Homo sapiens: one gene and its partner. The protein of the gene in region 1 purifies or fractionates together with the protein of each later gene. This does not show direct contact. Each region holds a gene or a part of one and is shown in the gene's direction. Other genes may lie near its edges. The genes, in order: LILRB3 and KCTD21.

Region 1 (4,539 bases):
AAGGACGGGCTTGTGTCCCAGGGGCTCTGAGGCTGGGCTGGTGAGGGGCGGGGGTCGAGGCAGAGGGAGATGTTGGGGCCCAGCCAGGAGGAGGAGCCGGGCTGATGTGGGGGGCAAGACAGCCCCAGCCTTCACCTCCCTGTCCTGACCCAGGAGGTCCTGAGGACCAGCCCCTTAACCCCCCAGGGTCAGGCCCTCAGAATGGTGAGTGAGGGGCTCTGAGTGGGAGATGGGCGGGGTCCAGGGGAGGCAGGGGTGGGTTCTGTCCTAGGTTCAGGCTCCTCTGGAGGTGGTGATGTGGACAGGCCCCTCCCCTGCCTGGGCCTCAGTTTCTCCAAGTGTAAAGGAGAGAGGCCTGTGGGTGGGAAAGTTCCTTTCAGCTCTGACCCCCAGCTGTGACCTCCTGGGAGAGGAGGCCTCCCAGGGAACCTCCCAGACCCGATTCCACAGGGGCCTGTCCCGTCCCACCTGCAGCAGTGACGGTGACCTGGGGCAGGGGAGGGGAGCAGGGCCGTGGTTCAGGACGGTCAGGCTCTTTCCCTGCAGCTCCGGGTCTCGGCTCTGGTGCAGGAACAAGGGCTGCAGGTCAGACTCCCGGGCTCCCTTCCCAGCTCTGCCGCTTCCTCGCTGGAGGCCTGGGGCAGGCGACTCCCTGCTCTGAGCCTCAGTTTGTGCATCTGTGAAATGGGTTGTACGGGTGGCAATTCCATGTTGCACGACTGCTTGTGAGGGTTGGAGGTCACGAAGGAAAGACCTGGCTCGCGCCTGCACACAGTAGGTGCTCACATCAATGACATCATTCCCACTCCTGACGTCCTCATGTCAAGGTCTGGGAAGATACCTGGAGGTTTTGATTGGGGTCTCGGTGGCCTTCGTCCTGCTGCTCTTCCTCCTCCTCTTCCTCCTCCTCCTCCGTCAGCGTCACAGCAAACACAGGACATCTGGTGAGTAGGGAAGCGGGGGACCCATGGGTCGACCGAGGGTGGGCTCAGGGCACCAGCCAGAGGGAACCCAAACACACAGGGGTGTCAGTTTAGAAAACCGGTTCCAGGGGCACGTAATTTCAATACGCATTTACAAACTTCAGTATTCATGGGAGTTTTTTTCTATCTCATAAAATATTTGGAACATCCATGCAGGAATATTTTTAGTTTTCCTTCTTTCCCTCAAGTTGCATGTGTAGAATGGGAGTTCTAATGTTCCCAGGGCTGAGACTCTGTCCATCTTCACCCAGACCAGAGAAAGACTGATTTCCAGCGTCCTGCAGGGGCTGCGGAGACAGAGCCCAAGGACAGGGGCCTGCTGAGGAGGTAATTCTGCCCCAAAGACCACAGACTCCCACCCACCACAGCCCATACACTGCCCCTCACACTCCCATGTCCTCCTCCAGGTCCAGCCCAGCTGCTGACGTCCAGGAAGAAAACCTCTGTAAGAGGAAGAGAGGGGACAAATGGGGGTGCTGGAGAGACAGGAGTCCCAAAATTTCAGTAGCAACAGGGAGGGGCTGGGAAGGGTCTGGGGCTCCGTGGAAGATGGTCTTGCCCCACACTGTGGGACCTCCCTGCATTCGGTGGCCCCATCTGGGAGCAGGGCAGGGGGCCAGCAGGACTGAGAGGTCTCAGAGAACCAGGAGACGAACCCCTTGCTCTGCCCCAGCAGATGCTGCTGTGAAGGACACACAGTCTGAGGACAGGGTGGAGCTGGACAGTCAGGTGAGATCCCGCCCCGTCCCAGGCACCAAAGGCCTCCTGGTGCCAGATCTAATCCTGCAGGACTTCTCTGTCCTCCTTCCCCCGGCTCTCAGCATCGTCACGGTGGACCCCTCCTTGTCCAGCATGCTGCCTCCCGCCTGCTGTGACCTCACTCTCTTCTGCTGTCCTGGGACCTCGTGGGCCTCCTCCCGGGTCCCCTTCCTGCTCCTCATCCTCTGTTTGGCCGTCTGGTTGTTAGAGCTCTCCCCAGGCCTCAGGAGGATGACGAATAAATGAACCACCTCCGTCCCCTGGGCTCCTCTTCATTCATTCATCCAGCGAGTGTTCCCAGGGAGCTCACTGTGGATGGGGCTCCCCATGGGAGCTGCAGACACAGCAGGGAGCAAAGCCGCCCCCGCCTCCTGAGCTCACCTCACGGTGGGAGACAAAATGCAAATAAATGCATCGTGTCCAGGAGTGCAACGTGCTGTAAGGAACATACACCAGGGAAAGGGCAGAGAGTGTGGGGCAGTGGGGCCAGTCTGAATGGAAGGGGAGGGCTGTCTGCTCAGCTGTCATCTGAGAAGCCTGGACAGAGTGGGGCACATGATCCTCTGATGGACGAGCCCCTGCAGGCAGAGGAAACAGCCGTGCAAAGGCCCCCAGGCAGCAGCGAGCTCTTGCAGGAAGGCCTGTGAGGCTGCAGCCAAATGGGCAAGGTCAGAGTGAGGAGCAGAGGCCAGAACCACAGGGAGGGAGCGGCCAGACCCTCCACGGCCTTAGGGCGTCCCTGAGATTCCATCAGGAAAGGGATGTAATCGGATCACCCCGGGAACAGTGAGGAAAATTGACTCCAGGAGGTCAGGGGGACTCAAGGACACCCCCCACCACTGTCTCTCTCCAGCAGAGCCCACACGATGAAGACCCCCAGGCAGTGACGTATGCCCCGGTGAAACACTCCAGTCCTAGGAGAGAAATGGCCTCTCCTCCCTCCTCACTGTCTGGGGAATTCCTGGACACAAAGGACAGACAGGTGGAAGAGGACAGGCAGATGGACACTGAGGTGAGTCCTTTCCTCTCCAGGCCCCCAGGCCTCCCCCACCCCCACCACGTTCCTTACCTCTCACTCTCCCCCGCTGCAGGCTGCTGCATCTGAAGCCTCCCAGGATGTGACCTACGCCCAGCTGCACAGCTTGACCCTTAGACGGAAGGCAACTGAGCCTCCTCCATCCCAGGAAGGGGAACCTCCAGCTGAGCCCAGCATCTACGCCACTCTGGCCATCCACTAGCCCGGGGGGTACGCAGACCCCACACTCAGCAGAAGGAGACTCAGGACTGCTGAAGGCACGGGAGCTGCCCCCAGTGGACACCAGTGAACCCCAGTCAGCCTGGACCCCTAACACAGACCATGAGGAGACGCTGGGAACTTGTGGGACTCACCTGACTCAAAGATGACTAATATCGTCCCATTTTGGAAATAAAGCAACAGACTTCTCAACAATCAATGAGTTAATAACAAAAAAACAAAAAACAAAAACAGACGTAAAGGCCGGGTGTGGTACTCAGGAGGCTGAGTGGGGAGGATTCCTTGAACACAAGAAGTTAAGGCTGCTGAGGCTGCAGTGAGCTATGACTGTGCCACTGCACTCCAGCCTGTGTGACAGAGCGAGACCTTGTCTCTAAAAAAAAAAACAGTGAATGTTTTAAACTGAATGATAATGTAAATATTATACATCGAACTTATGACATGGGAAAATTAAGAAGCATAAATAGGCCGGGCGCGGTGGCTCACGCCTATAATCTCAGCACTTTGGGAGGCTGATGCGGGCGGATCATGAGGTCAGGAGATCGAGACCATCCTGGCTAACACGGTGAAACCCCGTCTCTACTAAAAATACAAAAAAATTAGCCGGGCGTGGTGGCGAGTGCCTATAGTCCCAGCTACTCAGGAGGCTGAGGCAGGAGAATGGCATGAGCCCGGGAGGCAGAGCTTGCAGTGAGCTGAGATCGCACCACTGCACTCCAGCCTGGGCGACAGAGTGAGATTCCGTCTCGAAAAAAAAAAAAAAAGAAAGAAAAAAAATAAAAAAGAAGCATAACCAGGTGCAGTGGCTCACACCTGTAATCCCAATACTTTGGGAGGGCAAGTGGGGAGGATAGCTTGAGCTCAGGAGTTCGAGTCAGTCAGATCAGCATTGTGAGGCCCCATCTCTACAAAAAATAAAACCAGTCCGGCGTGGTGGCACACACCTGTAGTCCCAGCTACTTGAGAGGCTGAGGTGGGAGGATCACTTGGGTACAGGAGGTCGAGGCTGCAATGAGCCGAGATCGCACCACAGCACTTCAGCCTGGACGAGACCCTGTCTCAAAAAAACAAAACAACTAACAAGCCGGTGAAATTATCTGTTGATTAGTGTTTGCATAATACATTTTTCATCCTTCTGCTTTTTTAATGTGATAAAATATAAACAACAGGCCAGGCACGGGGGTTCATGCCTGTAATCCCAGCACTTTGGGAGGCCAAGGCGGGTGGATCACAAGGTCAGGAGTTCAAGACTAGCCTGGCCAAGATGGTGAAACCCCATCTCTACTAAAAATACAAAAACTGGCCAGGTGTGGTGGCAGGCACCTGTAATCCCAGCTACTAGGGAGGCTGAGGCAGAGAACTGCTTGAACCCAGGAGGCAGTGGTTGCAGTGAACCGAGATCACACCACTGCACTACAGCCTGGGCAACAGAGCAAGACTCTGTCTCAAAAAAAAAAAATTCCAATCTTGTAATCTCTTTTTGATCACTTATATTTAATGTAATCACTGATGACATTACAACCGTATGTCACTTAATGACAG
Region 2 (3,809 bases), on another chromosome or scaffold:
GCTTTGGGATAAGGCCTGGCTCTGTCACCCAAACCAGAGTGCAGTGGCACAGTCTTGGCTCACTGCAACCTCCACCTACTGGGACAAAACCAATTATTAAAATAGAAGAAGTTCCTATAGCTATTATCACTTGGGAAATTACACAGTTTTTAGCCCTGGCCAACAGCTGGGGACAAATCTAAAATGTATATTGCTTATTATATCACAGTATCACACAACCCCTCCCCTGAGTGCAAGGCGGTGACTATGCAGACGTGAGACATGCAGTTGCTCTCAGCTCACAAACTAGGCAGTGGTTTCCAAAAAAAATTGTTTTGTCAGCCACAGTATGAAGATACCATGATCCAGTTCATAGACACACAACTGAAACAAAAGTTTCACAACAATATATAATTGGTTACAACCCACTTAACTGTATTGATGTCATGACTTGCCAATAGGTCACAACCTTCATTTTTTTTCCTGTTTATGGAGGTAAAACTTAAGTATGGTAAAATTTACACTTTTTTTTTAATTGAGACAGGGGTCTTACTATGTTTTCCAGGCTGGTCTTGAACTCCTGGGCTCAAGTGACCCTCCTGCCTCGGCCTCTCAAAGTACTGGGATTATAGGCATGAACCACCACAGCTGGCCACAATTCACCCTTTTAGATGTGTATGGTTACATGAATTTTGACAGTCTTTATAAACACATTTGACCACCACCACATCATATTACTTTTGTGCCAACCTAATAGAATATTCCCATCACTCCAAAATATGCCTTGTGTTTCTTTGTAACCAGTCTTTTCCCTCCAACCCAGCCCCAAGAATTCACTTAATCTGATTTCTGTCTTTATAGTTTTGCCTTTGCCAGAACGTTATACAGATAGAGTCATGTACCATGTAACCTTCTGAGGCTGGCTTCTTTCACTTGACGTAATGCTTTTGAAATTCATGTATGTGGTAATGTCTTTTAGTAGTTCCTATATATTGCTGAGTCATATTCTATTGTATGGATGTACTGCAATTTATCTGTTTACAATTAGTTGTTTCTGAGTTTGGGCAATTATGAATAAGCTGCCATAAACATTCACATATGAGTCTTTGCATGGACATATGTCTCCATTTCTCCGGCATAAATACCTAGGAGTAGGGTCATTGGGTCACGTGATAATTGTATGCTGTATTAGTCCATTCTCACACTGCTAATAACAACATACCCCAGACTGGCTAATTTACAAAGGAAAGAGGTTTAATTGACTCACGGTTCCACAGGACTAGGGAGGCCTCAGGAAACTTAAAATAATGGTGGAAGGGGAAGCAAACATGTCTTTCTTCACATGGCAGCAGCAAGGAGAAGTGCCAAGCGAAGGGGGAAACCCCTTATAAAACCATCAGATCTCTTAAGAACTCACTATCACAAGAACAGCATGAGGAAAACCGCCCCAATGATTCAATCATCTCCACCTAGTCCTGCCCTTGACACATGGGGATTATTACAATTCAAGGTGAGATTTGGGTGGGGACACAGAGCCAAACCATACCATATGTCAAACTATTTTCAACAGCGGTTACCATTTGTCAGCAGTGTATGAGGTTTCCATTGTTCTATGTACTCACCTTCAATTGGCATTGTCAGTTTTTATATGAGCCACTAATAGGTATATAGTAGCATATAATTGTGGTTTCAATTTTCATACTCTCATGACTGATGATATTGACCATCTTTTCATGTGATTGTCAGTCATCTGCATATCTTCTTTGCTGGAGTATTTGTTAGATCTTTTGTCTAGTTGTTTTGTTTTTGTTTTTGTTTAAGTAGAGATAGGGTTTCACCATGTCGGCCAGGCTGTTCTTGAACTCCTGGCCTCAAGTGATCTGCCCGCCTCAGCCTCCCAAAGTGCTGGGATTACAGGCATGTGCCACTGCACCCAGCTTTATGTGTTTTTTAATTGGGTTATTTTCTTACTGAGTTTTGAGAGTTCTTTATATATTCTGGTTAACAATCCTTTATCAGATAGGTGTTTTGCAAATATTTTCTCCATCTGTGTCTTATTCTTTCATTTTCTTAACAGTGTCTTTTGAAGAGCAGAAGTTTTTTACGTGGATGAAGTCTAGTTTATTGATGTTTTTAATGGTTTGTCCCTTTTAGGTCCTATCCAAGAAATCTTTGCCTAATCCACAGTTGCAAAGATTTTCTCCTAGAAGTTGTGTAGTTTTAGATTTTATATTTAGGTCTATGATATGTTCTGAGTTTATTTTTCATAAACAGCATAAGAGATGGACCAAGGTTCTTTTTTTCCCCATATGGATGTCCACTGATCTGCATTTTGAGATAGCCAGGGAAGAGGGCCATGTGCAAAGGAGATCGCTGCAGGTGGAATGCTGGGTGCTGCCAGAGGGGGTTGTGCAAGGCACCAGGAAGCCCTGAGAGGAGAGCTGTTAACCTAGTGGAGATCTGGGGACAGTAGTACAGAGGTGATGACTCATAGGCTGGGCCTGAAAGGTAGACAGCAGAGAGGGTAGAGAAGGTAGACAGGGGTGGTCTAGGGACAGCAAAGGCAGGGCAGGTGTCAGCATGAAGGAGACTGACTCAGTGGCGTCTGGCGTGCGTGGAGGGCAGGGTTAGACATGAGAGGGAAAGAGGAAGGTGGTTGGGCAGGGACGGTACTTCAGGAAGGTCAGTCTGCAGACCAGAAAGGAAGGTGGACAGAAGGCAGGGAGCCGAGTGAGGATGTAGGGGTGCAGGGGGCAGGGATGAGGCCTGAGCTCTGGGAGTAGCTATAGGGATGGGTTCAAGGAGATAGTCAAGACAAACTGTAGGGCTGAAGAGTCGGGGCTGCTTCCCTCAGGCAGTTGGGTGGCTCAGAAGAGTTCACAGCAGAGTTAGGGGCAGAGGAAGGCACAGGTGAGGCTTCTGGTACCTGTGTTACTGGTGGAGGGTCTTGACTAGGAATTTTCCAGGTCCTTGGCGTTTTGAACAAAGTAGCAGAGGGGCAGACGTGGTAATCCCCACACTTTGGGAGGCCTGGATGGGCAGATCACTTGAGGTCAGTCCAAGACCGGCCTGGCCAACGTGGTGAAACCCGTCTCTACTAAAAAAAAAAAAAGTAAAAATAAAAAGAGTAGCAGGGGAATGAAATGCAGGAATGAAGCAGTGAAAGCAGGAATTAAAGTGAGAAAGCACTCCTCAGGGTGGGAGTGGGCCGGAGCAAGGAACTCAAAGGCCCAGTTACAAAGTTCTCTGGGCTTTAGGTACCCCATTTGAGGTTCTTATCAGCTACTCCTTATCTGGACGAAGGATTTAGTCTGTGGCTAATTAAAGGCTGAGGTGAATGGGCACCCTATGCAGATAAAGGGATGGTCCCAATCCAAGGCCCCCCTCCCTTTCCACCTGAGACATGGTGGAGTGGGAGGGTTGCAAAGAGGAGCGTTTGATCCTTTGTCACCCAGCTGGGGCGATGGCGTTTTTCCTCTTGGTTCAGCTTTAGGAATTTGGTGTTAATTGGTCTTAGGGTCCCTGCCCCCAGACCCAGGATTTTCCTTCTGATCCAGCTTTGGGAAGTCAACAGAATTGGCCTCAGATTTTTTGCCCCAGACCTTGGTGTTTTCTCTTTTATGAAGTTAGCACAAATTGGCCTTAAGTTCCTTGTCTCCAAACCTTGTTCTCCTGCCTCACTTGCAGAATATCCAAGTGGAGGTGGCCAGGAGGCATCTGGGAACACATAGGGGACTGAGGCTCAGTGGTGTTAGTTCATTACTACCTGACTGCAAACCTCCGCCGACTCATGAAACTCCCCTCGTGTCATGTCATTTTGCCTTTTGTAG

The links.
Region 2: the proteins of LILRB3 (region 1) and KCTD21 purify together in Homo sapiens (affinity purification with mass spectrometry, with the first as the bait; 2 studies listed by BioGRID). This does not show direct contact.

Annotation. Positions count from the first base shown.
Region 1 is NC_000019.10:54,215,534-54,220,072, reverse strand, and holds the end of LILRB3 (leukocyte immunoglobulin-like receptor subfamily B member 3 isoform 2 precursor), read left to right. Parts: intron 1-153; coding exon of another isoform or gene 154-204; intron 205-468; exon of another isoform or gene 469-827; coding exon 828-944; exon of another isoform or gene 945-1,171; coding exon of another isoform or gene 1,172-1,197; exon of another isoform or gene 1,198-1,206; coding exon of another isoform or gene 1,207-1,234; coding exon 1,235-1,310; intron 1,311-1,390; coding exon 1,391-1,428; coding exon of another isoform or gene 1,429-1,659; coding exon 1,660-1,712; intron 1,713-2,595; coding exon of another isoform or gene 2,596-2,598; coding exon 2,599-2,754; intron 2,755-2,833; coding exon 2,834-2,980; 3' UTR 2,981-3,795; downstream 3,796-4,539.
Region 2 is NC_000011.10:78,178,488-78,182,296, reverse strand, and holds part of KCTD21 (BTB/POZ domain-containing protein KCTD21), read left to right. Parts: intron 1-3,809. UniProt on the Homo sapiens protein: Probable substrate-specific adapter of a BCR (BTB-CUL3-RBX1) E3 ubiquitin-protein ligase complex mediating the ubiquitination and subsequent proteasomal degradation of target proteins. Promotes the ubiquitination of HDAC1.